Regions from separate parts of the Homo sapiens genome. Here all the other regions are reported to be linked to region 1. Evidence: microRNA targets listed by miRTarBase, many of them from high-throughput screens and not tested one by one. Region 1 holds a microRNA gene; each other region holds the end of a gene's coding sequence.

Region 1 (4,374 bases):
TGGGTGCCCTTCCTCAGCCCCAGCCCCTCTCTGCTCACCTCGCAGCTGGAGGATGACATCGTGGCCAAGCCCAACTACCTGAGCACCATGAAGAACTTTGCACTGCAGCAGCCTTCAGAGGACTGGATGATCCTGGAGTTCTCCCAGCTGGGCTTCATTGGTGTGCCCCTCCCCTTACCTGACGGTGCCTTTCAGTCCCACCTGCCTCTGCCATCCTCTCTCCCAGTCCCACTGTGTCCACTGTGAGCCTTTGCCCAGGTGGGCCCTGCCTGGTGTGCGTGCTACAGCCCCACCTGGCCTGTTCTCATTGCCTGTGCATCAGACATGTCTGCCCTCATCACCTGTCTGCCTCCCTGCCCCGTTATGCCCACACCTGCCTGAAGCCTGCCCCTGGGTTTGCTGTGGGACTCGGGGGCCGCTGCAGGGAGAAAGGAAGTAGGCAGAGCAGCACTGCCCACTCAGGCCCCTCCCCACCAGGTAAGATGTTCAAGTCGCTGGACCTGAGCCTGATTGTAGAGTTCATTCTCATGTTCTACCGGGACAAGCCCATCGACTGGCTCCTGGACCATATTCTGTGGGTGAAAGTCTGCAACCCCGAGAAGGATGCGGTGAGCAAGAGCTGGCGGGACTGGCAGGGGCAGGGCCAAGGGGCAGGCAGCCTCCACCCCAAACTGTGTCCCTGTCCTTGCATCTGCTCACATAGAGCACTGTCAGCTGTGGGAGGGCCCTGGTAGTCCCCAGGAGAGGCCGTGTTGAGGAAGGAGGGCTAAGCCGAGCCCTGGGGTGTTGCCCACCCTCCACAGAAGCACTGTGACCGGCAGAAAGCCAACCTGCGGATCCGCTTCAAACCGTCCCTCTTCCAGCACGTGGGCACTCACTCCTCGCTGGCTGGCAAGATCCAGAAACTGAAGGTGGGCTGCACTGCACGCTCTCCCTAGGCCGGGATCAAGGTCGGGGCCCACGCCATCACTGCTGTCCCTCCTCCGCTGCAGGACAAAGACTTTGGAAAGCAGGCGCTGCGGAAGGAGCATGTGAACCCGCCAGCAGAGGTGAGCACGAGCCTGAAGACATACCAGCACTTCACCCTGGAGAAAGCCTACCTGCGCGAGGACTTCTTCTGGGCCTTCACCCCTGCCGCGGGGGACTTCATCCGCTTCCGCTTCTTCCAACCTCTAAGACTGGAGCGGTCAGTGCCAGCACCATGGGTCTGCGATGGGGGCGGGGCTGGGTGGCCCCCAGGGTGTAGGCTTCACCGGCAAGTTATCCTCACGTTCTTCAGTTTCCGCATCTGAAGTGGGCCTCGTAATGGTAGCTACCTTGTGAGGACTAAGTCAGGCAGCCCCTAGGAGCTCAGGGATGTTTCCTGTCACCATCCTCCCAGAGGAAGGCCCTGGTCTCTTTGCACAGCCTGACAGCTGCCTGGGGGGCCCTCCTGGCGCAGGCCTGGCCTTTCTCTGCTGGGCCCTGGGTGCTGTGCTGGAACGCTGCCCCTGCAGCAGCTCACAGGCCTGCCTGGCTGCAGGTTCTTCTTCCGCAGTGGGAACATCGAGCACCCGGAGGACAAGCTCTTCAACACGTCTGTGGAGGTGCTGCCCTTCGACGTAAGTTCGGTGGGTGTGGTGTGCACTGAAGCCGGGCCTCCTGTGACCACCTGCCTCAGCCCTTGATTCTGCCCCCAGAACCCTCAGTCAGACAAGGAGGCCCTGCAGGAGGGCCGCACCGCCACCCTCCGGTACCCTCGGAGCCCCGACGGCTACCTCCAGATCGGTGGGTAGGGTTTGGGGGAGAGCGTGGGCTGGGGTTCAGGGACACCCTCTCACCACTGCCCTCCCACAGGCTCCTTCTACAAGGGAGTGGCAGAGGGAGAGGTGGACCCAGCCTTCGGCCCTCTGGAAGCACTGCGCCTCTCGATCCAGACGGACTCCCCTGTGTGGGTGATTCTGAGCGAGGTGAGGCTGGGCAGGGCCAGGCCAGGCACGGGGAGCAGCCAGGGAGACCCTGGCGGAGCTCAGAGGCCCTGCTGACCCTGGGTCCGGCTCTTCCAGATCTTCCTGAAAAAGGCCGACTAAGCTGCGGGCTTCTGAGGGTACCCTGTGGCCAGCCCTGAAGCCCACATTTCTGGGGGTGTCGTCACTGCCGTCCCCGGAGGGCCAGATACGGCCCCGCCCAAAGGGTTCTGCCTGGCGTCGGGCTTGGGCCGGCCTGGGGTCCGCCGCTGGCCCGGAGGCCCTAGGAGCTGGTGCTGCCCCCGCCCGCCGGGCCGCGGAGGAGGCAGGCGGCCCCCACACTGTGCCTGAGGCCCGGAACCGTTCGCACCCGGCCTGCCCCAGTCAGGCCGTTTTAGAAGAGCTTTTACTTGGGCGCCCGCCGTCTCTGGCGCGAACACTGGAATGCATATACTACTTTATGTGCTGTGTTTTTTATTCTTGGATACATTTGATTTTTTCACGTAAGTCCACATATACTTCTATAAGAGCGTGACTTGTAATAAAGGGTTAATGAAGTGTGTGCCTCAAATGTGAGCGCCCTGGGCATCTCCCTCTGCCCCTGCGGTTGGCTTCATTTGGTCTGTGCCCCAACATGCCAACTAAGCCTGGCACTGGGCCTCCCCAGCCAGCATCAGCAGCGACCTTTCCCTGCTAAGTCAAGGAGCCAGCCTGGCCTGCAGGCGCGGGGTCCAGCCCCTGGCTGTGCAGCTGCAGTGCCACCTCGGCGCCAGCGTACCCCCCTTCCTAGGATCAGGCCGCAAAGTCTGTCACTGGTGAAACCAGCTCAGAATCTGGGACCACAATGCCTATAGCAGGTCCCCCGAATGTCTCCCCCATGTCCAAGGCCTGCGATGAGGCCTTCCCTTAGCTCCTCAAGCTGAAGGCATTTCCCAGCCTCCTTGTTCCCCTCCGTGTGTCTCAGCTTGGTCCTCATCCTGGGTCCCCGACACTCCTCTGGCACATTAGGGTCTCCCGCTCACCTCAGGGCCTTTGCACACACTGTTGCCCCTCCTTGGAAAGCTCTCCTTTCTCCGTTTCTCCTGCATACTTGGCTAAAAGTCACTTCTTTGTTTCTGTGGGCCTCCCCTGGATCCCCAAGGCTTCTGGACATTTCCTTGAGACCGCCTGTCACTGACTCACTTCGTTCCCATGGTGCCCGCAGCTCTGCGGACCTCGGAGGGCTGCCCTGAACACCTACAGTTAACGAGGGGGATCCAGTGCTGACCAAAAGAAAAACCCCTGCCCTCACCTGGGGAGAGAGCCACAGGCTCTATCTAGTGTCAGCTGTGAAGGCCAGGGGACGAGGGACTGCGGCGGCTGAGAGTCGAGGGAAGGCCCCTGAGGAGGGGGACCGGTGAGGAGACCGCTGAGCGCTAGGAGGGTGAACCCCGGCAGGACTGGGCGGCCTTGTGACCCCGAGGCTGAGTAGGGAGTGGGGTAGGAGGTGAAGACCGGATCCAGTCCCGCCCCAGGGGGAGGGCTCGTTCCTTCGCAGCCACTCTCACGCCGCCACTAGGAAGCCCGCCCCGGGCTGCCCGGACTCGGGCTGGGCCCCTCCAGGCTCCGTAGCCCGCGGTGCGCCACCCCCGCGGACCCAGAGAACGCAGCCCGGGTCTCGGTCACTAGAACTTTAATGATAGAGACTAGGATGCGGAAGCGAGCGCCCCTCCCCGGGGCAGCTGGAGGCTCCGGCTCTTCTTTCCCGGCTCCGTCGGCCCGGGGGCCTTGGTCTCAGGCCCACGGCAGCAGCGTCCGGAGCCGTCCGAGGAGCGCGGCGCGCAGCGCGGCCGGGAGGAAGTGGGCGAGCAGGCCGAGCGCAGCCAGCGCCACCAGCAGCCAGAGGGCGCGCGCGCTCGCGTACAGCGGTGCCAGCCTGCGGGCGGCGGTCAGCGGGGAGGTGGCGCGAGGAGGCCCGCTTCTTCCCCGCCGCAACCCTGGCCCCACGGGGACTTCCTCTGGCCGCCGCCAGGGCTCGCCCACCGAATCCCCAAAGGCGCTGGGCTCCGGCCCGTCGCCCGCCCCCAGCTTCGGTCCCGCTCCCCAGGAGCCCCGCCCGCCCGCGATCTTTCCCCGGCCCCGCCCCGCTCCCCGCCCGGCCCTCACCTGAGCTGCGCGGAGCGCGCGTAGCCCTGGAAGTAGCGGAGGCGCGCGAACAGGTAGACCAGGCCGCACAGGGCCGCCGCCCCTGCGAGAGGTACGCACGGGCCTGGTGAGCGCCCTGCGCGGGTCCCGGGGGTCCAGCGCGTGCGCCCCTGCCCCACACCCCGACCTTCATGAAAGAAGATGCCGGCGACCCAGAGCGTGGCGAGGAACAGCGGGAAGTACTCGCTGCAGTTCACCCTGCGGTGGGCGGGTGGGATGAGCGCGCCGGCCGGGATGGTCCTGC
Region 2 (4,374 bases), not on the chromosome of region 1:
GCTCCAGAGGCTCACCACATTTGAGTCCAAGGTAATGTTGATACCCTTGGCTGGTCTAAGAAACACTGAGTGACTGCCAGTGTTTTCTTACGATGACACCTGAGTGTGTACCACCTGGGGCTGTGAACTTGGCCCTGAAAGGCAGCTTGGGGCAGATGGGCCCATTCGTTCTCCCACACATGCCTGTTTTCCTCCTAGTGCACCAGGAAGTCTCCAGTGACGGCACGAGCTGGACTCTGCTGGGCCTGCCTGCAGTGTCCCACCTTGACTCCGGAGACTACATCTGCCAAGCCAAGAACTTCCTGGGAGCCTCTGAAACTGTTATCTCCTTGATTGTCACTGAGCCACCGACTTCCACAGAACACAGTGGGAGCCCAGGAGCACTATGGGCAAGGACAGGTGGCGGAGGGGAAGCTGCTGCTTACAACAACAAGCTGGTGGCCAGGCATGTCCCCCAGATTCCCAAACCCGCTGTCCTGGCCACTGGACCCTCTGTGCCCAGCACAAAGGAGGAGCTGACCCTTGAGCACTTCCAGATGGATGCCCTGGGAGAGCTCTCTGATGGGCGGGCAGGACCCTCAGAGGCACGAATGGTGAGGTCTGTGAAGGTGGTGGGGGACACTTACCACAGCGTGTCCTTGGTGTGGAAGGCACCCCAGGCTAAGAACACAACTGCCTTCAGTGTCCTCTACGCGGTCTTTGGGCAGCACAGCATGCGGCGGGTGATTGTGCAGCCTGGGAAGACCAGAGTGACCATCACTGGGCTGTTGCCCAAGACCAAGTATGTGGCGTGTGTCTGTGTGCAGGGCCTGGTGCCCCGGAAGGAGCAGTGTGTTATTTTCTCCACCAATGAAGTGGTGGATGCTGAGAACACTCAGCAGCTTATCAATGTGGTGGTGATCAGTGTGGCCATCGTCATTGCCCTGCCTCTCACGCTGCTTGTCTGCTGCAGTGCTCTTCAGAAGCGCTGCCGAAAGTGCTTCAACAAGGACTCCACTGAGGCCACAGTTACCTACGTCAACCTAGAGAGACTGGGCTACAGCGAGGACGGCTTGGAGGAGCTGTCCCGGCACAGTGTCAGCGAGGCTGACAGGCTTCTCTCAGCTCGTTCCAGTGTGGACTTTCAGGCCTTTGGAGTCAAAGGGGGCAGGAGAATCAATGAGTACTTCTGCTGAGGGATATGCCTCCGCAACTCACACACCTGCCTGCCCACGCTCCTTCTTTAGCTCTGACACCTGAGTACACGATCACCCACTCTTACCTGCTCGGGTACCTGCTTACTCAGATACTTACACACAACAACAGCAGCAGCAGCTGCTACTGCAACAACCGCTAACACTTGTTAAGCACTTACTACAGACTAGAAAGTGTTCTAAGTGCTAAATTCTTGTAACAATCATTTGCAGCAGGCATCACTATTCTCTCCATTTCCCTGGGGTGGGGGGTTAAGAAACTTGCCTGTATCAGTCAGCTTTTGCTGTATAACAAATGAAAGCAAAATCTTGGTGATGTATAGCAGTGAACACTTATTTTCACACTCACAGGCCTGTGGGTTGATTAGGGTGGCTCTGCTCTGTGTGTTTCATTTGGAGCCTGGGCTGGAGAGTAGCAGTGGGTACCTGGGGCAGGTTTCTCTCGTGGTGAGGTTGAATGATAATAGAGGAATGATTGTTCATGCAATGCCTGTTATGTTCTTAGTTCAGAACTGGTATACTGCCACTTCTGTCCATATTCTATCTGCCAAAGCAAGTCTCATGGCCAAACCCAAGTTTGATGGGGCAAGTAAGGACACTTCTCCCCTGGAGGTGATGGTAGAGCAAGGAATATGTGCTGAACAGTGATTTAATCTGCATTGCCCAGGATTACACAGCTAGGCAAATTTAGATGGCTCTGAGATTTGGACCACACAGTTGGGATCCACGGTTAAAAGTCCTTACCATCCTCCTATACTGCACCTTGATTACATTTATGCTAATTCATAGGCACTCACACACACCATCTCTCTATGCATTAGCCATATTGGTAGTTACCCATCCTCACTAACACACACACTACACTCATAACCCACTGTGCCCTCAGTGAATTCTAATATTTATTCTCTGGGTGCTATTCTGCCTAGAGACAATCATTTGATTTTTCGATAAATGCTAGAGTTTGAGACAATGCCCAAGAGAACATTGCTCATTTGCTTTCAGAATGTCAGGCTGGAGGGATCCAAGAGACCTCATTACACTCTGTGCTGTCTGGCACATTCACCTCTGTCCCATGCAGCAGCCTTTGTGATTCTTACCAAAACCTACCTGGGTTCTTGAGGGTGTCTCGGAGCCTTCCTGGTTGCTCATCAAGTTACTTCAAAGGAAAATTGCTGTTTGCTTTTTCTTGGAGCTAGGAAACCACTGAGATGTTGTCTCTGTGCACTGGGGAAAGTGAATGTTCCCAGCAGAAGGCTCAATTTGTTCCTTATTTATAAAGCCGATCTCTGGCATGAGGAGCATCCAGGGTACCTGTGCCAAGTCCTTTGGGTAACAACTGAAGAAATTTTGGGACAGCAAGTGATCCAAGAAAATTGTTTTGCTAGTATTATGCAAGAGACTCCAAGTATTTGTAAGTATTATGTCATGTGATTTATTAGACATAAGCCAGTGTGATGCAGTGCTTCTTACTCCCCTCACATTTACAAAAGACCTTACAACATATTTCACTCAGTTTTCTCACATTTGATATTCATGACAACCCACTATGGAGGCTGGGCTGTTTGATTTTACAGAAGAAGACCAAAGAGGTGAATGATTTATACAAGGAAGTGATGAATTCTCTTTCAGAATCTAGTTCTTTGACAACTTTCTCATCAGGCTGATGGTCTTTATTCAGTATCCATCCCTGCAATGTGGTCTACAGAAGGTTCACTATAGAAATCAACTTTTTAAAAATCACTGAAACCTGGGATCAGAACCATGAGAGCACCCATGCACATGAGCATGGAATTTCCATTCTTGGATATCTTCTGCCACCACCTGGAGGGTGCACCTGACTATAACTTGTGGACCATAGACATTGGTAAGAGAGGCTGTTTTGTTGTAAGATGACAAAGACACTGTGTACATTGGGAGCCAGCAAACTTTTTTCCTGTAAAGAAAGGCAAATAGTAAATATTTTAGGCTCTGTTGCTACTACTTAACTCTGCTGATGGGATGCAAAAGCAGCCATAGACAATATGTAAATTAGTGGGTATGGATGTCTTCCAATAAGACACTTTTTACAAAAACAGGTGACAGGCTGGGTTTGACCCTGAGATTGTAGTTTGTTTACCCCTTATGAAAATTTAGAAAGATATTTCTGGTGAGTTTTGGAGACCCAAGACTCAATTCTGACTCTTTGATAAATGAGAGTGATAGACACCCCCAAAATTAGGACAAATGTAAATGCAGTAGATGAAAGCAGTCATCTGTTGAAGTGATCAGGATGTTGCCTTTAAATGATGGTCTGAACCAATCATGATGGGACAGTTATTGACCTAAAGACAAGTAACATTTAGCCAGTTTTATTGAGTCTTGTTTGAAGAAAAATCAGGAACTTAAAAGCAAGAAATCTGTAGTATTTATCTGATGTTAACAGAGACAGAAAGAGAGAGAGAGAATTCAATCTTGCCAATGATCCAATGGTTTATTGGGACCTATTTTCATGGTCTGGATGGAAAGGCCTCTGATATGGTTTGACTGTGTCCCCACCCAAATCTCACCTTGAATTGTAATAACCCCCATGAATCAAGGGTGGGGCCAGGTGGAGATCATTGAATCACGGGGGCAGTTTCCCCCATACTGTTCTCGTGGTAATGAATAAGTCGCATGAGATTTGATGGTTTTATAAATGGAAGTACCCCTGCACAAATCCTTTTGCCTGATGTCATGTAAGACATGCCTTCGCTCCTCCTTGCCTTCTGCCATGATTGTGAGGTCTGCCCAGCCATGTGGAACTGTGAGTCCACTAAACCTCTTTTTCTTTATAAATTACCCAGTCTTGGGTATGTGTTTACCAGCAGTGTGAAAATGGACTAATACAGCCTCCAAGATGATAAGCCTCCCAAAACTCATCTGTCAACCTTCCTTTGTGTATCCTGTCTTCCCTGGTTTGCCCTTGTAGAGAAGAATCATCCTGGATTACGCTCATGAATATTCAAGTCATGGGAAGAAACACATTCTTATTGTAAAAAATAAAATGATGTCTGGCTTACCTTAGTCTTTTAGTATGTGAGTCTGATGAGTATGAGTTAGTCCCTGAAAATTGAATGCCCTCTGAGTATCCTGGCAAAAGAATTTCTGGCCTTCCAATGCTGAAGACCAATTTGGGCCATGGCGAGGCTGCAGCATAGCTGGC
Region 3 (4,374 bases), not on the chromosome of region 1:
TTTCAGTAACTTTCCGGGGTAATTAGACTAATTATTCAAGTACTGAGAAGTTTAAACATTCACAAGTTTTATAATAGGAATGCCAAACCTTGGTGAATTTTGCAAATGTAACAACTTTGGCATAGAAAATTTAGGATGAAAGTAGCCTGCCAGATTGAAACATTGGGGATTCTCTCTTTTTTTTTTGAGACGGAGTCTCGCTCTGTCACCAGGCTAGAGTGCAGTGGTGCGATCCTGGCTCACTGCAACCTCCGCTTCTCAGGTTCAAGCGGTTCTCCTGCCTCAGCCTCCCCTGCCACACCCAGCTAATTTTTTTGTACTTTCAGTAGAGACGGGGTTTCACCATGTTGGCCAGGATGACCTCATGAGCTGCCTGCCTCAGCCTCCCAAAGTGCTGGGATTACAGGTGTGAGCCACCTGGGGATTCTTTTTACAGCAACATTTTGCATTGAGATTTGAAGTCTTACAGATTTTTATGATTATCTTTGCTAAGAAATGGTTGTGAGCTATATTTTACTTGCAAGTAAGTTCAACTACCTTTGATTCATGGCAGAAAATTCCTTTGGGACTGTAAAGTTTTCCAGCGCTTCATGGTATTGGCGTTCAGCAGCAGTGGGACCATGGTCATAGGTGACGTGCCCTGGCCCCTTGTGCTGGTCATTAGGGATACAGCTCAGTGTATCTCATGAACTCAACCGTGGTGCCTTCTGAGACTTTAAATTCAAATTATTTGTATACTCTCTTGTTCAGTGATTCTTAAAAGAATTTGTTTTGTTCCCAAATGTCTTCTTTTTAATTGTTGTAGAAGAAATGAGGAACAAGTGAAAAGTTAATGAGCAAAAAAAAAAAAAAAAAAGTTGGTTTATGTTTGCATTTTTAGAATGTAATTTGAAAAATTACTCCTCACTAAAGGTAGTCGTTTTTTGCTATATATAAGCGGCAAAAGAAAATTTACTATTTTTTTGCATTAGAGAGACTCCAAGTTGGCTGCAGAAATTTTTCTAGAAAATAAGATAAATCTGATGGGAAAACTAGTAATCGGATATCATGTTGTGCAGCTGACTTGTTAGAAATCCTTTGACTCCCCAATAATTCGTGAACTCAGAGAGCTGAAAACATACAAACCACACCACCCCATGCATCTTTTTTTGTCTTAGTCTTTTCTGCTCTGTGTTTCTCTTGGTATGGTGCACTATAATTGGCTCCTATAGAGAGAAAATAGCAAGTGAATCCCAGGACATATTTTTCTCTGCACAGAAAATATGAGTTAAGCCAAAGTAAACAAATTGCTTTCACTACTCACCAGATAATAATTGTATTTTGTTTTTATTTTTAGGAAATTCATACCGAAGTGCAGCAAGATTGTCATTGACTTTGATTCAATTAACAGCAGACCGAGTCAAAAGCTTCAGTGAGTTACATCTCATTCAATCTCCAGAAGATTGGGATTATCGTCTTCTAAGAGGTTGCTAATGCCTTTCATCTTGAAGTTACACATAACTTCTTACTAGCCAGTATGGCAAAAGTAGGCATCTAAAGAATATAAAGCCTCAAATCTTCCTTACTGTCTCTCTTGTCACATGGAATCTACATGTGTTTGAACTATTGCTTTAGGGTTTAAAATAGGGGAGCCTGTGGTGGCCTGGTGCACAGGGCTAGAACGAGAGTGCCTCCCCTTCTTGTGTCCTGGCTGGCTGGGATGCTGGTGGCTCTTCAGAGGAGCATCAGCTGTCTGTCATCTGCTGCGATCCGGCAGCCTCTCTTCACTGCTACATGTGCTGGAAGGACAAATAAATAATTGTGGTTGTGTTCTTAATGGGGACGAGCAGACACACTGATCTGAACATCTGGCCCAAGTGAAGCATGGCATATAGTGCCCTTGGAAGAAAATTAGGCCTCAAATGACAGTAGCATTGAAGTGTTTGCTGCAGAGTTGAGGGAAACCCCCAGCCACCCTCCCGGAATCCGAGATAGGGTGGCACATCTGTCCTGACAGACGAGGAGTGTAACTGAACCAGGAATATTTCCTCCATTCCTGCTCTCCCACTGCACACAGGGTGGTGGCACATTATCCCTCTGGGGGGTGGGGACGCCTGTTGTTTTGGCTCAATTTGGGTTTGTTGGTCACATGGAGCTCTTCCATTTCGTTTAGCTGAATAATGAGTTGTTCCTAGAGGAGACAGCCTGTCTCTCCTTGTTGCCCCCAAAGCCCATGCCCTGCCGTGGTGGCAGCTGGGGCTGTGGATGGGAGGGGTCCCCAACATGGATGTGTTGCCCCTCCTCCGCATGCCAACGCAGTTCATGTACAAGGCCCCTCTGCAACTGGAGAGAAAATTAATTCCTATCCCGTGAGTGGATTGTGAGAAATTCCACCCACGTGGAGACAGCTTACTGCAGCACTGTTGGTGTTCGGAGCTCTTCTGTGCCCTGGCTCCATGCTTTCACCTACACAAGCATCACCTTCCTAATCACCGCGGGGCGGGGAGCGTGTGGCTGTGCCCCTTCTCTTTAATCTCATTTAATTTTTATTAAACATGCTCAGTACCTGTGTTGAGAAAAGGCTTTCTTTATCCTAAAGATTATTACCTTTTTAAAGTGCTCTTATATTTTCATGAGTTTTTATTTTGTCTCTGAGATTTTGTATTCCACATTCTAGGGTATTCTGTAATTTGGCTCCTTACCAATATTATTAAAATCTTATTAAAATCTACCCTACCAAAGCATGTACATTTTTATGTTATTATAATTATATGCTTAATTTTCTGCTCCTGTCCTTTCTGTATTGTCTCCGAAGCATATTACATATGTTTTAATGCTCAAAGAATAATTTGAGATGCCCAAGCTGTGTGCGTTCCCCAGGGTTGATGTCTGGGGCTGCTTTATGGATCAGATTTATGTAAAATGCGAAGGCAGCCGCTAGCCCTACGCTCTCTCCTGTGTACCCTGCCCCTGGTCCCAGGTGTGGCCATCTATCTGGTAGGGCCCAGGCCTCTGTCCTCCCGGAAGGCTTCAGTCCTGAGTTCTGCCCTTTGCTGACTTCTCACCTTATCCTCTTTCCAAGTCTCTCTTCTCTTCTCTCCTAAATTTCCTTCTCTTTTCTCCTCCAAACTCCTCGCCCTGTGTTTGCTCCAAAATACATAAAACAAAAGGTATGTGGAAAAAAGAATCAGTAGACTTAAAGGTAGAAAATTAGAGATTTCTCTATTGCCGCAAGTCACAAGAGTTGTGAGTCCTGTTAGGATGGAGTGTGTCATTTTCATCACATCACATTGATAAATATGTCTAGGGGCTGATAAGCCAGTAGGGCATCTAATTTATGTAATTTTGATACTATCTTATATCTTGTCTGGTTGTTACATTCAGTTTCAGTGAAAAAAAATTGACTTTTTTCTTTTTCTGTCTTTGAGGGGAGGTTGACAGGAAGGGTCCTTGCTAAAAGGGGAGTCCTGGTACTGAGGTCAGTTGTGGGTGTTTATTTGGGGGCAGATGCTGTCGCTGGGGGGTTGTGATGCTTCCACCTATGAACCGACCCTGGTCTCCTGGTGACTGGAGTGTGAGTGATTATGTCTTCGTTTCTAGGATCACTATAAGAATAGTAGAATTGTCCTATCCAGAGAATTCTGCAGATGTTCATGTTCCAGTTAATAGAGGTTTGCTTTGAACTGGTGCCTTGGGGAGAAGCTTTCCAGAAGGAGGGAGTTTTGTGCAGTCTTTTGCCTCGCAGGCATTACTAGATAATTGTGGTGAAGGGAGACTGTATCTGAGCCAATGTTGCTGCCTGTCATGGCTAATAAATGACAATAAGGAAACCATCTTTCACTGAACCGTTGGTAGAAGGACTACATTTAAAAGGCAGAATTTGTGAGTGAAATGATAGGAACTCCATTTCCCTGACACATTTTCTGCTTTCTTCCCTTTTACTCTTTTAGCAGTCTGTCCTTAAAGACTTCTGAAGCCTGACAAGACCCAGCAGTGAAAGTGATCTAATATATTAGCCATCTTTTCCTAAATTAAAAATGAAGCAAAATAAGAGAACAAGCATACAAGCTGAGCTCATGAATACAAATGTAGGCTTGCAAGCCCGGTGAGCTGAAGTTCCTGTGGCCCTGGTGTAATTTTTGATCTTCCAATGTCTGTATCTACCTGAGGATTAAAAATATTTAGGTTGTTGCAAAAGGGCCTGAGGAATGCAGGGAGGGAGTTTTCTCATTGGCGAGGCTGATAAGAAGTTTTAATATTTATAGTTCACTTTTGTTGTTGTTGTTAAAGTAAAGCCACTCTAAAAATGGTAGTTTCTACAAATCATTAGCCAGGAAGCCTGTCTAAAGCTCCAGGGAAGGACCAGAACTCAAGGTGGGGGTGCTTTGCAAGCTC
Region 4 (4,374 bases), not on the chromosome of region 1:
CTAGGAGTTGTTTATCCCTGCTCATGCTTAAGATTGACGATTTCGTGAAATAAAGAACATTATTTGAGAGAAAAAAACTGATTTTTTTTAAAGAAATCATCACTCTCATTTGAAAGGTTTGCTTTCTTATTTCCTGTAAGTACATTTCGTTTTTCTAATTCAACTGTAACCTCAGGACCACTGTACAGCACTTAGTAAACCTGTCTTTGTACATGCAATCTAGTTCTTACCAACTGCCTTCTCAAATGGAATAGAACTATAACACACAAATAAAAGGAAGATGTACAAGCACAGGGACAAAACAGGAGGAAAATAAAGACTAGAATGTGAATCTCATTTTCAACAAGTATCAGCAAGGAAAATGAGACCCTGGTTTCATAATTAATTAAATCTGCAGAATGCCAATTCCATTTGGTGTTAAACAGTAACCCAATATAAACCACTGATTCTGGAATAAGATTAAAAAAAAAATACCTGAGTGAATATAACAATATGGATAGACCAAAAAGAAAAAAAATCTCACACACAATAATCACTGCAAGAAGATCCCACAGGTTATAGAAAACATAAAGGAACTTTAATATCCAAACATTCAGGGTAAAGAATACTGGATTAATCACCCATTAAGTGTAAATCACTTCAGGTTCTTTACAGTACCAGAAAGTAAAATCTAAATTTTGCATATTGCAGAGAATGAAACCATTTTAAAAACTTTAATTTCCTTACCTGATACTAATACCAGTATGATTTTTAGACGGAAAAACTAAGAGTAAGATTTAAACCAAAGATAGAGGTGTTCCTGAAATGTGAATTTGTTCAGTAGTAACCTTTTCATCATGAGTACTGATACCACTTTCTTCTCAGAAAGTAGTCAATGTACATTTTAAGATTTGTGCAATAAGCCAATATGCTGGATAATAAAAACTGTTATTACTGGAGATAGTCAAAATGAAAGAAAACTATTTAAATTATTTATGCCCAAATAATTTACCCTGCAGTCCATGAGATGCACAGGAAATAATTTTTTTTAATAAGAGAACAATGAGGGTCCTAAAGTAGAAACATAAGCCAGAAGAAATCTAAAAATAGCTTCCTGATATTTTATTTTAAAATATTTCATTTAAGCTGCTTTTGGTTGCATGCCCTGATCTGTAGAAGTTAACAAGGAAATAAAATTTCCAAGTATTTAAAAAATTTACTCATCTTCCATAAAGCGACTTTTAATGTATCAACACTTAAAAATACACAGTGACTTAATGAAATATCAGCACAACTGCATAGAATTGAGCTCCAGAGAATTATACACTCGAGCTGTCTTTCCTGGGCTCTGGTTTATAAGGGTATTGGCTTAGAGACCAGCTTGGAGTCATTTGCCCCTACCCGGGAAATGCAGGCCAGGAAACTTAAGATTTTGCGGGCCTTTTCTGTTTCTAGGTAAAATGCAGGGAGCTCCCTGAAGGTCTTGAAAACCATCAACCATTCAAATATGTATACTGGGACCTTTCCTCTTGAGTAAAGGAAGAAGGAGGTTTGTGATCTTCACTGAAAACAAAGTGAAACTTCCCACACAAGTCTTCTAAGAGACTCTGAAATATACTAGAAATTTCAAAACTAGAACAATGCCATCAAAGATTAAACCTCTTAATGCTTGGAGCCACCCCAAAATAATAAAATCGGGAACTCCAGGAAAACAGGTACCAAACGAATCAAAATAATGATTGCACTGAGGATTCTCTTATCTGAAGGCTGTTTAAAGAGGTAGGATTTTAAGGTTTTTTTTTTGTTTATCTTTTGGCCTCTGAACATTTAAAAGATGCTTTGCCCAGCTGGTCCTTCAGGCAAAATTTGGAGGTCACAATGAACTCCAAGCCTGACACAAAGATATTCTACAGTTTCACAGCTATCATTTGTACATATTAAGTTGATTCACTCTTTTTGAGCAAATCTACCTAGAAAACGGCAAATTAATATATTCCTTTACATACAACTTTGTGTCTCAAAATTCTTGAAAAACAAGAGCAGATGACTTTGTATTCAAAGACTACCAAAGTATGTATTTGATTTTCACATGCAAACAACTTAAAACCTTATAAATCTCATGTCAACTCTGCATGATGCCTTGAAGGAAATGACATACAAAGTTTGCTAACTGTGCAAAATATTAAATTGCTAAAACATTTTACATAATGAAATAATACATGTAAATGTTGAAGTTGACACATGAAATTAACATGGCATAAGAACTTATCACATTTCAGATATTTTCTTTAGTAACAAGTTTTTGTTTTTATAGTTCCTGGTACACAGCAAAGTTTATCACGAAAGATAAAAATCCTTTTAAACAAATCCAACAGGAAATTCTTGAGGCACCTTCTCATATAAAACACAAGATGAATGCAATTATCAATCCATCTGAGAAAAGTTTTCAATCTAAATGAACATCATTTTTTCCATTTAAGTATATTTTACAGAACTTTAATAAGGCAAGACAAATTTGTGAAAAAAGATGTAGATACAAAAATGATGTAAACTAATAATTTATATTAAAAAACCCCAAAGGGATAACAGTGGAGATGGGACAGCTCAAACAATGCCTTTTTTTAACCTAAAACAGAATTGTGCACAAGCTGAAGATGACAAACAACTTCTAGACTCTGCACAGTTTTGGTTTTTTTTTTTAACATCTTTATATTACATGTTTTAAATCATATCAGGAATGCAAACTAGAACTGCACACTACTTCAGTGGAAAAAAGTTCAATATTGTGCAATTTTCTGCCTCTTAATAGTTAAAAAGTGGCAGCAATCCCTGCATTTGTGTTTGAAACAAGGATCTGAGAAACTTTATCAAAAAAGGTAATGAAGGCAAAAATTGGCAGACATCCAGCATCTTGTTTCTTTTTAAAACAATGTGGATGATAAGTAATTTCATGATTAAAAATGAATCTTTTAAATAAATACATTGTATCTGACATTTGCACTGACTGATTTGATAAATCTTTAAGTAAACAACGGCTTTACTACACTCCCTGTAGCCTCAAGCCACTGGCTTTAGATTCTGGAGTCCTTATTCACTGGGTTTCATACCCTGCCACTCGATACCCAGAAGGCTGATTGGGCAACATGCTGCCATTTTGCCCTTGAGGCGGTTGCACTCCATAATTTGGTCCCATCCATGGTGCAGAAGACTGTGTCTGACTGGTGGAGAATGTGAAAGAAGCAGAGGGGAGAGGAAATCCACTGATTAAAATAAAGTATTGGCAAGAACAAACAACAAGAACAAATATGGGAAATGGGAAACATACTTTTTCTTAATCCCAAATAGAATAATTTATGCTAGGGAAAATGAAATCTTTTACTAAAGTTTTTTTCTCTTAAAAACAAGCATCCCTGTATGTTTAATTTGGACAGTTTAATTTTGTTAGAAATTAAAGCTAAGAAAATACCCTGAACTTATCAACATTCATCTCCTTTGAATATAGAAAAACCTAACCCCATTCTTGGAAAAGAAAGCTATCCATCTCATCTCTATGCCTTGGTTGAACATATTTGCTGAGGAAACCACTACCTGAAAGAGTCAGGTAGGTTCCCTACAACGAAAAAGGAACATTATACTACTCAAAGAAGAAATCAAAACAATTATTAGCATATGAAAGCTCATAAAAATTCATAACATTACAAGATTTTCTTTTCTTTTCTTTTTTTTTTTTTTTTAAGACAGGTTTTCATTGTGTCACCCAGGCTGGAGTACAGTGGTATGATCTCAGCTCACTGCAACCTACGTCTCCCCAGGCTCAAGCGATTCTCCTACCTCAGTCTCCCGAACATCTGGGATTATAGGCACGCAACCACCATGCCTGGCTAATTTTTTTTGTACCTTTTGTAGAGATGAGATTTCGCCATGTTGCCCAGGCTGATCTTAAACTCCTGGACTCAAGTGATCCGCCTGCCTTGGCCTTCCAAAGTGCTAGGATTATAGGCATGAGCCACCATGCCCAACCACAAAATCCTTTTTTTTTTTTGAGACAGAGTCTTGCTCTGCTGCCCAGGCTGGAGTGCAGTGGTGTAGTCTCAGCTCACTGCAACCTCCGCCTCCCAGGTTCAAGTGATTCTCCTGCCTCGGCCTCCCAAATAGCTGGAACTACTGGTGTGCACCACTACACCTGGCTAATTTTTGTATTTTTAGCAGAGGTGGGGTTTCGCCATGTTGGCCAGGCTGGTCGCAAACTCCTGGCCTCAAGTGATCCACCCACTTCAGCCTCCCAAAATGCTGGGATTACAGGCAGGAACTACCACGCCCAGCCCACTAAATTCCTTTTTAACCTCTCAAGTATTTTTATTTCCAGTGTGTTTTTCAGAAATGTAAGTAAAATAG
Region 5 (4,374 bases), not on the chromosome of region 1:
GATGCCAATCCTCAAGCAACTGGTGTCCAGCTCGGTGCACTCCAAGCGCCGTTCCCGAGCGGACCTCACGGCCGAGATGATCAGCGCCCCGCTGGGCGACTTCCGCCACACCATGCACGTTGGCCGGGCCGGAGACGCCTTTGGGGACACCTCCTTCCTCAATAGCAAGGCTGGCGAGCCCGACGGCGAGTCCTTGGACGAACAGCCCTCTTCTTCATCTTCCAAACGCAGTCTCCTGTCCAGGAAGTTCCGGGGCAGCAAGCGGTCACAGTCGGTGACCAGGGGGGAGCGGGAGCAGCGTGACATGCTGGGCTCCCTGCGGGACTCGGCCCTGTTTGTCAAGAATGCCATGTCCCTGCCCCAGCTCAATGAGAAGGAGGCCGCGGAGAAGGGCACCAGTAAGCTGCCCAAGAGCCTGTCATCCAGCCCCGTGAAGAAGGCCAATGACGGGGAGGGCGGCGATGAGGAGGCGGGCACGGAGGAGGCAGTGCCCCGTCGGAATGGGGCCGCGGGTCCACATTCCCCTGACCCCCTCCTCGATGAGCAGGCCTTTGGGGATCTGACAGATCTGCCTGTCGTGCCCAAGGCCACGTACGGGCTGAAGCATGCGGAGTCCATCATGTCCTTCCACATCGACCTGGGGCCCTCCATGCTGGGTGACGTCCTCAGCATCATGGACAAGGAGGAGTGGGACCCCGAGGAGGGGGAGGGTGGTTACCATGGCGATGAGGGCGCCGCTGGCACCATCACCCAGGCTCCCCCGTACGCCGTGGCGGCCCCTCCCCTGGCAAGGCAGGAAGGCAAGGCTGGCCCAGACTTGCCCTCCCTCCCCTCCCATGCTCTGGAGGATGAGGGGTGGGCAGCAGCGGCCCCCAGCCCCGGCTCAGCCCGCAGCATGGGCAGCCACACCACACGGGACAGCAGCTCCCTCTCCAGCTGCACCTCAGGCATCCTGGAGGAGCGCAGCCCTGCCTTCCGGGGGCCGGACAGGGCCCGGGCTGCTGTCTCAAGACAGCCAGACAAGGAGTTCTCCTTCATGGATGAGGAGGAGGAGGATGAAATCCGTGTGTGAGGCGGACAGTGGGTGGCCACCGGGAGCTCTTGGCTGCATCTTCTCCCTGCCCCCACCCCACTATGACCTTTGACCCTACGGCGCAGGGGCAGCCAGGACCCTTGATTCAGACCATGGACCCTGGACCTTGTAGATGAGGGACACTGGCCTGGCCCTCGGGTCTTCGGAGGACGTAGGGGGCTGGCATGGGTGCCGACTGGCTGCCTGACTTCATCATGCTCCCTGCACTTAGGCTGCGTGGGACAAGGGCTGTGTTGTCACAGCAGGAATAGGTTTTCCTCTGTTGGCCTCCCTTTCCTCCACCCTGGCCTCAAATGGATGCCAGATGCCAACCCCAGTTCTGGCCACGTACAGCCAGCGGGTCAGCCCAGAGGCAGCCTCAGCTCCAGGGCTAAGGACTCTCGGCTCCCATTTTCTCTGCTGGCGTTTCTGCTGTGCCCAGCAGTGGCTGCTGGGGAAGCAGCTGCAGCAGGAGGGAGACGGTCTTGCCTCTCAGCCCCTCCCTGCCCCACCCCAGCTCCTGCCCTGGAAATCTGGAGCCCCTTGGAGCTGAGCTGGACGGGGGGCCAGCTGCGAGCATGTGCACTAAACGCAGCCCTTTCCAGGGGAAGAGAACAGGATGGAGAATGGAAGGAAAGCCCCCCAGGCTTCGTGAATTGCAAGAAGGGACCCTTCCAGGATGACACTAGGAACAGGGCTAGGGCACTCGCTCAGTCCCTAGGGGCTTGTTTGTTCTTTATTATTGTGTTTAAATCCTTATAGAGCAATATCAGGATGGTGTTAATAGGTCTGCCTCAGAATGAGAATCAATCCTTTTAGAAAACCTTTATACTAAGCCTCCTCTTCAAAATTCACAGTGGCGATTAGCGGACTGGAGTCTGGTGGCGATTAGCGGACTGGAGTCTGGGGACATCCGTGGCAAAGACACCAGCTCAACTTTAGTGCTTCCCAACTTTATTTAGAATGACATGGGGTGGGTGTCTGGTGTGTGTGTTTTCCCTACGCACCTCCCATAGCTATTAACAACTGAGGAAGGCCAGTGCAGAATATTTTTGGAGAACGATTTTTTTTTTAAATAATATATCATTCCTATGGGGGGAAAGCCTTTTTTTTCTTTTTGGCTGAGTTATTCCCTCCCTCCCCTCAATACCCTCAGTACTGACTACTTCCCTTTCTTTTCTCAGGCCTCCCCCCACCGACTTTTGAGGCCAGGGTTGGCCAGATTTAGCAAAACCAAAACAGAGTGCTGAGTTAAACGCAAATTTCAGGTAAACAAAAGATAATTTTCTAGCATTAATATGCCCCACGCAATATTTGGAACACTTATGTGAAAAATGATTTGTTTTTCTGAAATTCACGTTTCTCTCTGAGTCCTGTAACTGTCCCCGAGGGGATTGAGCAGAAGCTCGGGTATGAGCCCTGAGGTTGACTGCCGGTTATTTTTCTGTCCTGGGAACAGCCTGACCCACCTCCCTGTCTCCATGTAGCCAGTGAGGGGAGGGGGAGACACAGAACCAACCACAGCCAGGGGCGTCCCCATGGCGACTGTGGCCCGGCCCCTCCTCTCTTGCCTGACTCTCCTCTCTTGCCTGACTCTAGACACTAACTTAGTTCCAGGTTCGGTGCCCTGTTGGTGCTCCTGTTTCCAATAGCTTAGGTCCCATGGTGGGGGAGGAACCTCAGGGGCTATGCAGCCCCCGCCAGCTGCCCTCGAATCCCGTCCAGGCCAATTCCAGATTCTAAACTGATTTTTTTCATGATATTGTCAAAACAGTGAGGAAACATTAAAAAAAAAGCCCTAAAGCACGCCTGGTGTCTGTCTCTGCTTTTTGGGAGGGCTATTTCAGGATGGGGGTGGGGTCTGGACCCAGGTCCTAGAGCTGTCCAGGGGGGCCTGAGGTGGCTTCTGTCTCTCTGTCCGTGAGGACCCGCCCTTCCTGCGATGCTGTCTGCCTGGGCAGGCCCCTTCAGAGTCTGGGGACTCAGGTGTCCCTAACTGCCATCTCTTGGAAGCCCTTGGCACTTGGTCGCTTAGCTGTTCTGTGCCTCCCTCTCCTGCTCTGTAAAATGGGTATCCTGCCACTCTTAGAGGGTTGAGGCACAGAAACAGTGACATGGGCTTTTTGTGGGGGAGGGGGTTGGTTTTTTGTTTTTTTTTGTTTTTTTTTTTTGTTGTTGTTGTTTTGTTTTTTTTGAGATGGAGTCTCACTCTGTCGCCCAGGTTGGAGTGCAGGGGTGTGATCTCAGCTCACTGCAACCTCCGCTTCCTAGGTGCAAGCGATTCTCCTGCCTCAGCCTCCCAACTAGCTAGGATTACAGGCGTGCGCCACTACACCCAGCTAATTTTTGTATTTTTAGTAGATACTGGGTTTCACCATGTTGGCCAGGTTGGTCTCCAACTCCTGACCTCAAGTGATCCGCCCACCTTGGCTTCCCAAAATGCTGGGATTACAGGTGTGAGCCACCGTGCCGGTCGACATGGGCTTTTTATACAGTTGTGATTAGGATGAGAGTGACTGTGTTCTCCCCAGCCCCCTGGTGTCCTGGTGCACGGAACTGTCACCACCAGAAAGTGGCTGGCCCTGAAGGCAGTTTCTGCATGATGCTGGGAGCGGGGCTACCACCTCCTCTTTCCCCTTTTACCGTTAAGCCTGGAAAATCAGCTTACAAGTGGCAGGTCCTCAGTTCAACCTCACTTCTCAGGGAGATAGAAGCTCCACATCCCCATTTTCCAGATGGAGAAAGATGATCAGATAAGCCTCGAGGCCGCCTTCTCTAATGCCCAGAATTCATTCAAAACTCCTGCCCTTCTCACCCCACCACTCCTGGGCACATCAAAACCTCGGGATATAAAGTCAGGGGGTGAGGGTCTAGTGGCCCCTGAACCCACTGCCCTGCCCCTGCCCTACCACCTCCTTCCCTTGAATCATGTTCCCCTCTTTCTGGACAGCTTCAGAAGGGAGCCCTGGTCTGCGTAGGGCTGGCTCACTGCTTGTTGAAGCCCCCGCTTGCTCTCAGGAAATCTGGGGAAATCTTGGGGATCTCAATGTGGCTGAGTTCCTGGTGGAAACCCTGCACTCTCCCCTGAGCACCCACAGAGAAATGTGAGTTCCCCACTCATCTCCCTGGAAAGCAATTAGAGGCATAATTAAAATGTCACTCAGGTCCCTCCCTCTGTCCCTAGACAGGCTCATTCGTGTGGGAGTTATGAGCGGGGACTTCTGGCTGCCCCAAGGGAAGAAGAGAGAGGGAGGAGAGCTGGGGCCCATTGGGAGACGGGTCCCTAGGGGCTACAGTCTAGC
Region 6 (4,345 bases), not on the chromosome of region 1:
ACCTGAGGTGAGCCTTTTCAACAGCGACTGGTACAACTTTCAGCTGGACACCATCCTTCGGAGGATGTTCTCAGGGGTTGGAGTATATCTCGTCGATGCCTGGGAGATGACCCTGGCCCATTATCTACCGCACAAGCTGCATCCAGATGAAGTTATTGTGAAGAACCAGCTGGACATGTTCTTGTCCTTTGTGTGCCCCTTGGAAACCTAGCCTGTCTTGGAAGGGACTGGAGGAATCATATTCAATGACCTTCTCAATTGACCTGAGTTACAGAAAGTGGCCCCAGTGAGAGATGACTGCCCTTAATAAGTATAAAATTTCAAAAAGATCTGGACTTAATATGATGACTTATAAGGAGCTTAGAAAATGCAGGTTACATTTATATCTACCTATAGGATTTTATCCAATGTTGACTTAGCCATGGTAGAACTCTTAACTGCATCTACACACTATATTGCTCTTGTAACCAAAGATGCTAATGAGTGTATTTGAATTAGCTTCTCCTAGGAGGGGTGACTACTTTGCTAAAGAGTATGAAAAATGTTTTGATGGAAGGGACAAGTTTGGTTGGTAGTAGAGTGTTTGTAGCTTATCTGGTAAAGGAAATTGAGTGCATCTGCATGCATAGCACAAGTAATCCATCTTCTGGCGGTTAACTAGAGAAAGCTTATAGTCAGAGGCTCTTGTGAATGCACTGAAGACTGCTGTGTCTCAGGAGTTTCTCTTGATGATCTACCTTTTCTGAATTACTTGAAAAGGCCAATGTGCTTGGTTCGAGTTTTTTAGTGAATATTTACAATTTCCTGCTTTTATCTAGAAAAGAAGCAAAAGGGAAATATGAAAGCAGTATATATAAAATCTGTGCTTTGGAATTGATATTTGCATTTGGTGATTGTTTTTTATTTGATTCAGCTAAATTTTATGTGTTGAATACTTACTCTAGAATAACTACTTTTGGAACTGGAAGGGGGAAATCTGTAAATGGAAATTTATTTTTATGTTCTGAAATTTGAGGGTTTAGGAATTGACTTTTGTGTAAAGAATGCTACGATATTATAAAGCTGTGGAAGTTTTTTCCACTAGTTTCAGGTGTTTTTTTTTTTGTTGTTGTTGTTGTTATTTTGAACTACTTACCAAAATTAGAAGTTAAAATCTAATTAGAAATTAATAAGATACTAAAATTCATGACAGTTTTTTGTTTGTTTGTTTGTTTGTTTTTTGGTATTTCTTGATTTGGGCATAAAAGGCACACCCATTCTCTCATGCTTGGAAGAAGCTGCTATTCCTACTGGCTATCTAAGAAGAATGGAATTATTAATTTTATTTGACTTATTAATTTTAAACGAGTTTAATTTGGGATCATTTAGTAAGTACTCTTTTCTTTTTGAGCTGTGATAGATTATAGTCTAGTTTAAGTTGCTCCTAAGTAGACAGATGAAGAAACTAGGGAGGCTTTAGAGAGGAAGACAGATGCTTGAAGTATGAACAATATATACCCTTAGAAGAATGGGTCAAATAATTTGGGTTTTTAATTTAAAATAGGAGGGCCCCAGATCTTACTTTCCTGTCCTTGAGGAACACCTTCAAGTTTTTAAAGTATTTTAGGGGGAAAGAAGATTTTTAATTGTTTCTGAGCCTAATGAGGTAATAAAATATATTAAAATAGTTTAATTTTAATGGTCCTTACGCTTTACAGTACCTAAGGATCACTTGTAGTATCTGACAAAAATGCAGAATTAAAGAGTCATGGCAGGGTGTGGTAGCTCAAGCCTGTAATCCCAGCACTTTGGGAGGCCAGGCAGGAGGATTGCTTGAGGCCAGGAGTTTGAGACCAGCCTGGGCAACATAGTAAGACCTCATCTCTACAAAAAATAAAAAATTATCCAGGTGTGGGCCGACAGTCCCAGCTACTAGGGAGGCTAAGGCAGGGTGATTGATTGAGCCCAGTAGTTTGAGGCTGCAGTGAGTTATGATTGCGCCACTACACTCCCACTTGGGCAACAGACAAGAGATCTTATCTCTAAAAAATTTTTGTTAAATAATAAAAGAATTAAGGCCAGGGATGTTGGCTCACATCTGTAATCCCAGCAGGGATTATAGTCTCGGGAGGCTGAGGTGGGCGGATTGCTTGAGCCCGGAAGGTCAAGACCAGCCTGGGTGCCATGGTGAAACCCCATCTCTACAAAAAAATACAAAAACTAGCTGGGTGTGGTGGCACCACCTGTAGTCCCCGCTACTTAGGAGGCTGAGGTGGGAGGATTGCTTGAGCCCAGGAGGCAGAAGGTTGCAGAGGTTGCAGTGAGCCTTGATTGTGCCACTGTACTCCAGTCTGGGCAACAGGGCAAGACCCTGTCTCTAAAAAAAAAAAAAAAAAAAAAAGAGGGACCATGATGCCTCTGGGATTTATGAAACCAACCTTTGTGGCGAGTGCTCAGTGATTCTGATGCAATGGTGGTATTCCACACTGTGAGAAACACTAAGAGAAGAGGTAAGATAGAATGAGGGAATAAACATGGCTTGTTTATTATTTTGGGGGATTTACCAATAACTGGTTTAATTCTGTTCATGATCCAATAGTATTGGTGATATTAGCTCCATTTTATAGATGAGGAACTCATGTTTAGATCTGAAATAAGGTATGTGAGAGTCCATATCTCTTTTCAGCTAAACTTGTGAGACTTTCGTAAAGAAGCGTTTGTATTTATTTATTTGTTTTTGAGACAGGGTCTTGCTCTTTTGCCCAGGCTGGAGTGCAGTGGCATGATATGGCTCACTGCAGCCTTGACTTCCTGGGCTCAAGGGATCCTTCTGCCTCAGCCTCCTGAGTAGCTGGGACTACAGGTATGTACCACCATGCCCAGCTAATTTTTGTATCTTTTTGTAGAGACTACATTTTGCCATGTTGTCCAGGCTGGTCTTAAACTCCTGAGCTCAAGCATCTGCCCACCTCAGCTTCCCAAAGTGCTGGGATTACAGGTGTGAGCCACTGTGCCCAGCTGAGAGTTTTTCTTGTCGTGAAAGAACTTGACATTTCCTCAAGGATTTATAAAGGAGGCTGAGGAGTAATTTTCCCAGGAGAATTTTAAAAAGAAAGCGGGCATTGCTCCTCCAGTGGTTTGGAATGATGCCACTTGATTGTGCAAATGATTTCTTATGATCTTGTCTGGTTTTCTGTTATTTTTTGATTTGGTGACATAGCTCTCAAAGATTTGGTGACACAGCTTCTTGAGTCACTTTCATCTCTCTTAAAAAAATTTTTTTTTTAACAACTTTTAAGTTCAGGGGTACATGTGCCAGTTTGTTTCATAGGTAAACTTACGTCATGGGGGTTTGTTGTATAGATGATTTCATCACCCAGGTGTTAAGCCTAGTACCCATTAGTAATTTTTCCTGATCCTCTCCCTCCTCCTACCCTCCACCCTCCAATAGACCCCAGTGTGTGTTGTTGCCCTTTATGTGTCCATGTGTTCTCATCATTTAGCTCTCACTTATCAGTGAGAACAACTTTCATCCCACATCTAATTTGTCTTTCTTCACTCTGGTGTGGAAATTTTGATAGAGATTCCAATATCACTTAAACGTTTCCCAGAATATTTAGATAGAATAATTTAGTTTCTTCTGAAAAGTTTATTTTAGGCTAGTGCCACATGGTTGTGAATATTAGCATGGTAGCCAAATAATAGTTTGTTTAAATGTATATTTCCCAATATAAATATAAGGGGCATCATAATTTTTAAAAACTATAAAATCTAGAAGAAAAATCTATGGATAAAATCCATAATTCTATCATCTGAATGCAATGAACATTAGCATTTAGGTATATTTTCTTGCAGGTTTTTTAACCATATACTTATAGAGAATATGTAATTTGGGTCTGTGTTTTTTACATATAAATATTTTTCTATGTTAAATAGTCTTCATAAGTTAATTATAAAGATCTGCTTAATAGTTCTGCTACTGCAGTTTTCATTATTAGATAAGTTGGTCATTATAGTTGGACATTTAGGTTTACAATATTAAAGCAGTGGTTTATATCAATTTCAGTGGTTTAAAATATGAATTTCTATTTTGGAATGAAAGTATTAATTTAATGTAGTGAATCTCATATTCCAGAACTGAGATGATTGATTTGATGCTATTTGTGACAGACAGAACCCATAATAAAGCCTTTCTATGCAAGTTACATTTTATAGAATTATCCTACTAAAAGTAACCTTTCTTCAGCGAATGCAAAACAGACCTTTGGTGTTCCAGTATGATTCATTTTGCCATTCTGAACAACTATCATTTTAATTAAGACCATTTAACTGACACTTCCTGGATTCAGTTATTAAGTTTCAGATT
Region 7 (4,374 bases), not on the chromosome of region 1:
AGTCAATAAATTGTACATTAAAAATTACTAAAAGAGTATAATTGGATTGTTTGTAAAAAAGCATAGAAACCCTGTCTCTACTAAAAATACAGACATTGCATGTCTGTATCAAAACATCTCATGTGCCCCATAAATACCTATTATGTACCCACAGATATTAACAATTAAATGAGTGAAAAAAATTTATAAGCTATCATCGTACCTAAGGTAACCTACATTTTCTCCTATGATATATTCCAGGACATTTCTAGTTTGCATTTTACTTTTAGGTCTATGATCCCTTTGAATAATTTTTTTTTTTTTTTTGAGACAGAATCTCACCCTGTCACCCAGGCTGGAGTGCAGTGGCGTGATCTTGTCTCACCTCCGCCTCCCAGGTTCAAGCAATTCTCCTGCCTCAGCCTCCCGAGTAGCTGGGATCACAGGTGCTCGCCATCATGCCCAGCTAATTTTGTATTTTTAGTAGAGACAGGGTTTCACCATGTTGGCCAGGCTGGTCTCGAACTCCTGACCTCAAGTGATCCACCTGCCTTGGCTTCCCAAAGTGCTGGGATTACAGGCATGAGCCACCGCGCCCAGCTCCTTTTCATTAATTTCTGTTTAGGGTGTAGGGTCTGTTTGATTTCTTTTGCACATGCGGACATCTAGTTGTCCCAGCACCATTGTGGGACCATTTTCTGCATTGTGGTGCCTTTGAATCTTCTCAGAAGATGAGTTGACTATATTTATATGGGTCTATTTCTGGGTCCCCTAATCTGTTCTATTATTTGTCTCTCCTTTTACCAATAACACACTGGTTTGGTAACTGCAGCTTTGTAGTAAGTCTTCTAGTCAGGTAGCGTCAGTCCTCCAACTCTGCTCCTCTCCTTCAGTATTGAATTGATTATTCTGGGTCTTTTGCCTCTCCATAAAAACTTTAGGATCATCTGTTAATATCCACAAAATAACTTGCAGGGATTTTGATTGAAATTGCATTGAATCTATAGATCAAGCTGGAAGGAACAAACATGTTGAAAATACTGAGTCTTCTTATCCATAAACATGGAATTTTTCTCCATTTATTTGGTTCTTCTTTTGTTCATCAGGGTTTTGTAGTTTTTCTCATATATATAGAAAGAGTACACTTTTTTTAGACTTGTACCTAAGTATTTTATTGTTTGGGGGTGCTAAAGTAGAAGTACTTTGTTTTTAACTTCAAATCCACTCATCCATTGTTGGTATATAGGAAAGTGATTAACTTTTGTATATTTTGAAATCTTGAATAGTTGTTCATTATTCTAGGGGATTTTCTTGATCCCTTTTTACACTTTCTACCTGGAAAATGTCATTTGTGAACAAAGAGAGTTTGTTTCTTCTTTCAGTATCATTAAACTTTAACTTCCTTTTCTTGCCTTGTTCCATCTGTTAGAGCTTAAAGTGCTGAAAGGAGATGGTGAGAGCGGATGTATGGGCCTTGGTCGTGATTTTAGTGGGAAAGTTTCTACATTCTTACTACTGTATATCATGTTAGTTTTGAGGTCCAGTGGACAAGGAATGGTCAAGTGACACAAAAGGCCTCACCTGATATTGCAAGGACTTGCTGACAGTGAGAGGTCAGGGACAGGGGAGACCCCACCCACACTGTGAAGTCCTGAGAACAGCGAGGGGTCAGGGACAGAGGAGACCCCACTCACACTGTGAGGTCCTGAGGACAGGGTGCAGCCTCTTCCAGGCTTGATGGGGGTCTGCACGGTGGCTGCAGGCATGGTGAGCCCTTGCTGCCGGCTCCCAGCACTGACAGGAGGGGGGGCCATGGTGTCCGCATGCCTTGGGCTAGGCTTGAGGGCCAACACTGGCCTCCTTGGGGTGTCCAGACAGGCTGGGAGCACTCACTCACCTGTGGCCTTAGTGGAAGGACCCCAGAGGGGACAGGGCAAGGTCTCCTTCTGCAGGCTGCTAAGTATAAACCAAATAAGAAAAAGCAGAAAACAATTTCCCAGATCAAACAAAAAATAACATCAGAGTGCTGGGTGCAGTGGCTCACGCCTGTAATCTCAGCACTGTGGGAGGCTGAGGCGGGCGGATCACTTGAGGTCGAGAGGTTGAGACCAGGCTGACCAACATGGAGAAACCCCATCTCTACTAAAAATACAAAGTTAGCCAGGTGTGGTGGCGCATGCCTGTAATCCCAGCTACTCGGGAGGCTGAGGCAGGAGAATCGCTTGAACCTGGGAGGCGGAGGTTGTGGTGAGCTGAGATCATGCCATTGCACTCCAGCCTGGGCAACAAGAGTGAAACTCCCTCTCAAAAAAAAAAAAAAAAAAAAAAAATCAGAGCTCCCTGGGCTGTGGCTTTCTAGAGAGGCTGCTTCCCAGTTTTCCTGCCAGGCACCTGCACTGGCTCTGGCGACTGGCATTGCAGCCCCTAGTCCAGCTGGAGCCTCAGAGCAGGACCTCCTGTGGAACTGGGGTCTTAGCAGACATTCTCAGTGAGTGACATCAAGACCAGGCCATCCTGGATTAGGTTGGGCCCTGGACCTGTGGCAGGCGGCCGTGCAGGGTCCTCCCCAGAACCTTTGGAGGGAGCACGCCCAGGATATCTCAACGTGGGGCTTCTGGCTGCAAAGCTGCGAGGGCCCCTGTGTGTGAGGCTCACTGAGCAGCCCTGGGAAGGCAGCACCACTGGGCATTGGGTGCACCAGCGTGGAGGCCCCACAGGCTGGGCCGTGGCACCATCCTGGGACTCGCCTCCCATGTGCCCGCACCCTTCCTTGCAGCCCTGCACGGGGCATCTGAAAGCAGCATGGCAAAGGGGCACCACCCGCAATGTGACGCGCAGTCCCGCCAGAGGCCATGCTCACCTACCCCAGGGCCTCTGAGGGAGTGGCCACTGACCCAGACACAAGGCACCAGGTGGAAACACTGGCACCCATCTTCAAAAACCACTCTGAAGCCAGCATTTCCCTTTATTTCTGGATGGAAACGGGGCCCTAAAAGCAGAAATCAATATTTTTGTTTGAAAGATGCAGTCATGCTAATTTCACTTTTGGCTAAAACCGAGACGATAAAAGAACAGTTGGGTGTTTATAGGATGCCCTCAAAGTGAGCTGGCTAAGTGAGCTGGGCTCTAACTTCACTCACAAATTTATAGTACAGCTAAGAAGGCCAGTCTGTCCATGAAAGGGAGCCGAGACAAGACGAGGGCGGCCTCTTCCAGGCCTGTGCCAAGTGTCCTTGGGGTCCCGCCATGGTCCACACTTCTGCAGCATCCGCAGAACATGTGGCCGGGTCCTGCCCAGCAGCAGGGACAGCCAAGTGGGAGGCAGGCATGGTGCACACCTGGGGAGGCCCCTGGTGCAGAAGCAGCCCCACAGTAGCAGCCCCATCCAGAGGAAGACCACTCCGGAGGGCCACAGGCCTCTGCAGCCCTGGCACTGCCGCCCAGCCCTCCATCTCAGCGGGATGTGCAGGGTGAGACAGGAATGCAGGGACGTTCTGCCCCTAGGTCAGCCTCTTCATCCGCCTGTTGTGCTTGTCGATGGTCAAGGTTGCCCTGTCCACAGCTGCTGCAACGCCATCCAGGGCTTCGTCTTGTCTCTCCAGCTCACTCTCGGCCTCCAGGGCCAGCCCCTTCATCCTCCTCAGGATCTGGGGAGAAGCACAAGATCACAGCAGAGGCTGCCATCTCTGCAAACTCTAGCACAGACAACATCTCCCCCTCTCACACACCCAAGAGCCTTTGCGTTACCACCTGGGTGATGCCATCTGCGAGCCAGCAGGAGGGAGCCGGCAGCCCAGCACCAGGGTCAGGTCATGGCTCTGCCTCTGCCAGTACAGGCCTGATGAGATGAGGTGCCTGCCCCACCTCCTGCCAGCTGCCTGCCCGCACCTCCTGCCTGGTGCAGTGGCCACACCCTGGCCTGCCATCTCCAGGCTGCGGAGTGCTCTGTTTGGCTGACCTTGTGGGAGCGTTGCATGTGGGTGTGGAATTCCTGCCCACAGTGGGGCAGCTGGGGACCTGGGCACGCAGCTCGGATTTGAGTCCCAGCTCTCACCCAGCCACTATGCTGGGTGAGACCTGTCTGCATGTGGGTCCCTAACTGCAGACTGGAGTGGGAAAGCAGGATTAAAAAGAAACACAAACCCCTTCTCTTGTCTCTAAGTGTGAGATGTTTCATGCACAATGCAAATGACAGAATGAAACTCTCCATACGGTGGAGGGCAGCCAGCACCGTGGGGGTGTGGGAGATGGTCCCCGGCCCAGCAGATGCAGAAGGTGGAGGCACGCAGGGCCAGGCAGGTGTGGATAGGGAAGGCTGGATGGGGTGGGCCGCCCCAGGAATGCTAGCACAGAGATGTGTCCCCTGGTTGCAGCAGGGGCGATGAGCTAAGGGCT

Evidence for each region. Region 1 holds the annotated microRNA hsa-miR-1229-3p (CUCUCACCACUGCCCUCCCACAG, at 1,814-1,836, shown strand). A microRNA usually pairs through its seed, bases 2 to 8, with sites in the 3' UTR of a target mRNA and lowers its output. Matches are read on the target gene's strand: a 7mer-m8 pairs with bases 2 to 8, a 7mer-A1 pairs with bases 2 to 7 and ends in A, and an 8mer does both.
Region 2: miRTarBase lists LRIT1 as a target of hsa-miR-1229-3p. The part of its 3' UTR that is shown has no 7-base or 8-base seed match.
Region 3: the mRNA of DCTD is a reported target of hsa-miR-1229-3p. Seed matches in the 3' UTR shown: 7mer-A1 at 2,360-2,366.
Region 4: the mRNA of TIA1 is a reported target of hsa-miR-1229-3p. The part of its 3' UTR that is shown has no 7-base or 8-base seed match.
Region 5: the mRNA of CDC42EP4 is a reported target of hsa-miR-1229-3p. The part of its 3' UTR that is shown has no 7-base or 8-base seed match.
Region 6: miRTarBase lists NXPE3 as a target of hsa-miR-1229-3p. Seed matches in the 3' UTR shown: 7mer-A1 at 2,468-2,474 and 7mer-A1 at 3,496-3,502.
Region 7: the mRNA of SNAP47 is a reported target of hsa-miR-1229-3p. The part of its 3' UTR that is shown has no 7-base or 8-base seed match.

What each region holds. Positions count from the first base shown.
Region 1 is chr5:179,795,740-179,800,113 of GRCh38, reverse strand. MIR1229 (microRNA 1229) reads left to right here and starts at 1,768; the gene lies at 1,768-1,836. It overlaps LTC4S (leukotriene C4 synthase), which reads right to left. Exons shown (of 5, transcript NM_145867.2): 3 at 4,258-4,328; 4 at 4,092-4,173; 5 at 3,467-3,861. The coding sequence ends at 3,720. It overlaps MGAT4B (alpha-1,3-mannosyl-glycoprotein 4-beta-N-acetylglucosaminyltransferase B), which reads left to right. Exons shown (of 15, transcript NM_014275.5): 8 at 46-160; 9 at 478-608; 10 at 804-911; 11 at 993-1,186; 12 at 1,523-1,601; 13 at 1,680-1,767; 14 at 1,837-1,949; 15 at 2,046-2,504. The coding sequence ends at 2,069. RefSeq lists silencers at 3,488-3,699, 3,544-3,703, 3,724-3,773, 3,814-4,374 and an enhancer at 4,333-4,374.
Region 2 is chr10:84,228,728-84,233,101 of GRCh38, reverse strand. LRIT1 (leucine rich repeat, Ig-like and transmembrane domains 1) reads left to right here. Exons shown (of 4, transcript NM_015613.3): 4 at 199-1,582. The coding sequence ends at 1,175. Among named protein-coding and RNA genes, the nearest start is that of LRIT2, 5.4 kb to the right of the region's middle.
Region 3 is chr4:182,888,440-182,892,813 of GRCh38, reverse strand. DCTD (dCMP deaminase) reads left to right here. Exons shown (of 6, transcript NM_001921.3): 6 at 1,337-2,723. The coding sequence ends at 1,415. Among named protein-coding and RNA genes, the nearest start is that of DCTD, 27 kb to the left of the region's middle.
Region 4 is chr2:70,209,649-70,214,022 of GRCh38, forward strand. TIA1 (TIA1 cytotoxic granule associated RNA binding protein) reads right to left here. Exons shown (of 13, transcript NM_022173.4): 13 at 1-3,197. The coding sequence ends at 3,071. Among named protein-coding and RNA genes, the nearest start is that of C2orf42, 21 kb to the left of the region's middle.
Region 5 is chr17:73,282,128-73,286,501 of GRCh38, reverse strand. It overlaps CDC42EP4 (CDC42 effector protein 4), which reads left to right. Exons shown (of 2, transcript NM_012121.5): 2 at 1-2,878. The coding sequence starts at 2. The coding sequence ends at 1,072. Among named protein-coding and RNA genes, the nearest start is that of CPSF4L, 22 kb to the right of the region's middle. RefSeq lists enhancers at 1-87, 88-643, 1,199-1,755.
Region 6 is chr3:101,821,744-101,826,088 of GRCh38, forward strand. It overlaps NXPE3 (neurexophilin and PC-esterase domain family member 3), which reads left to right. Exons shown (of 8, transcript NM_145037.4): 8 at 1-4,345. The coding sequence ends at 211. Among named protein-coding and RNA genes, the nearest start is that of NFKBIZ, 26 kb to the right of the region's middle.
Region 7 is chr1:227,779,779-227,784,152 of GRCh38, reverse strand. SNAP47 (synaptosome associated protein 47) reads right to left here. Exons shown (of 5, transcript NM_053052.4): 5 at 2,927-3,626. The coding sequence ends at 3,480. Among named protein-coding and RNA genes, the nearest start is that of PRSS38, 34 kb to the left of the region's middle.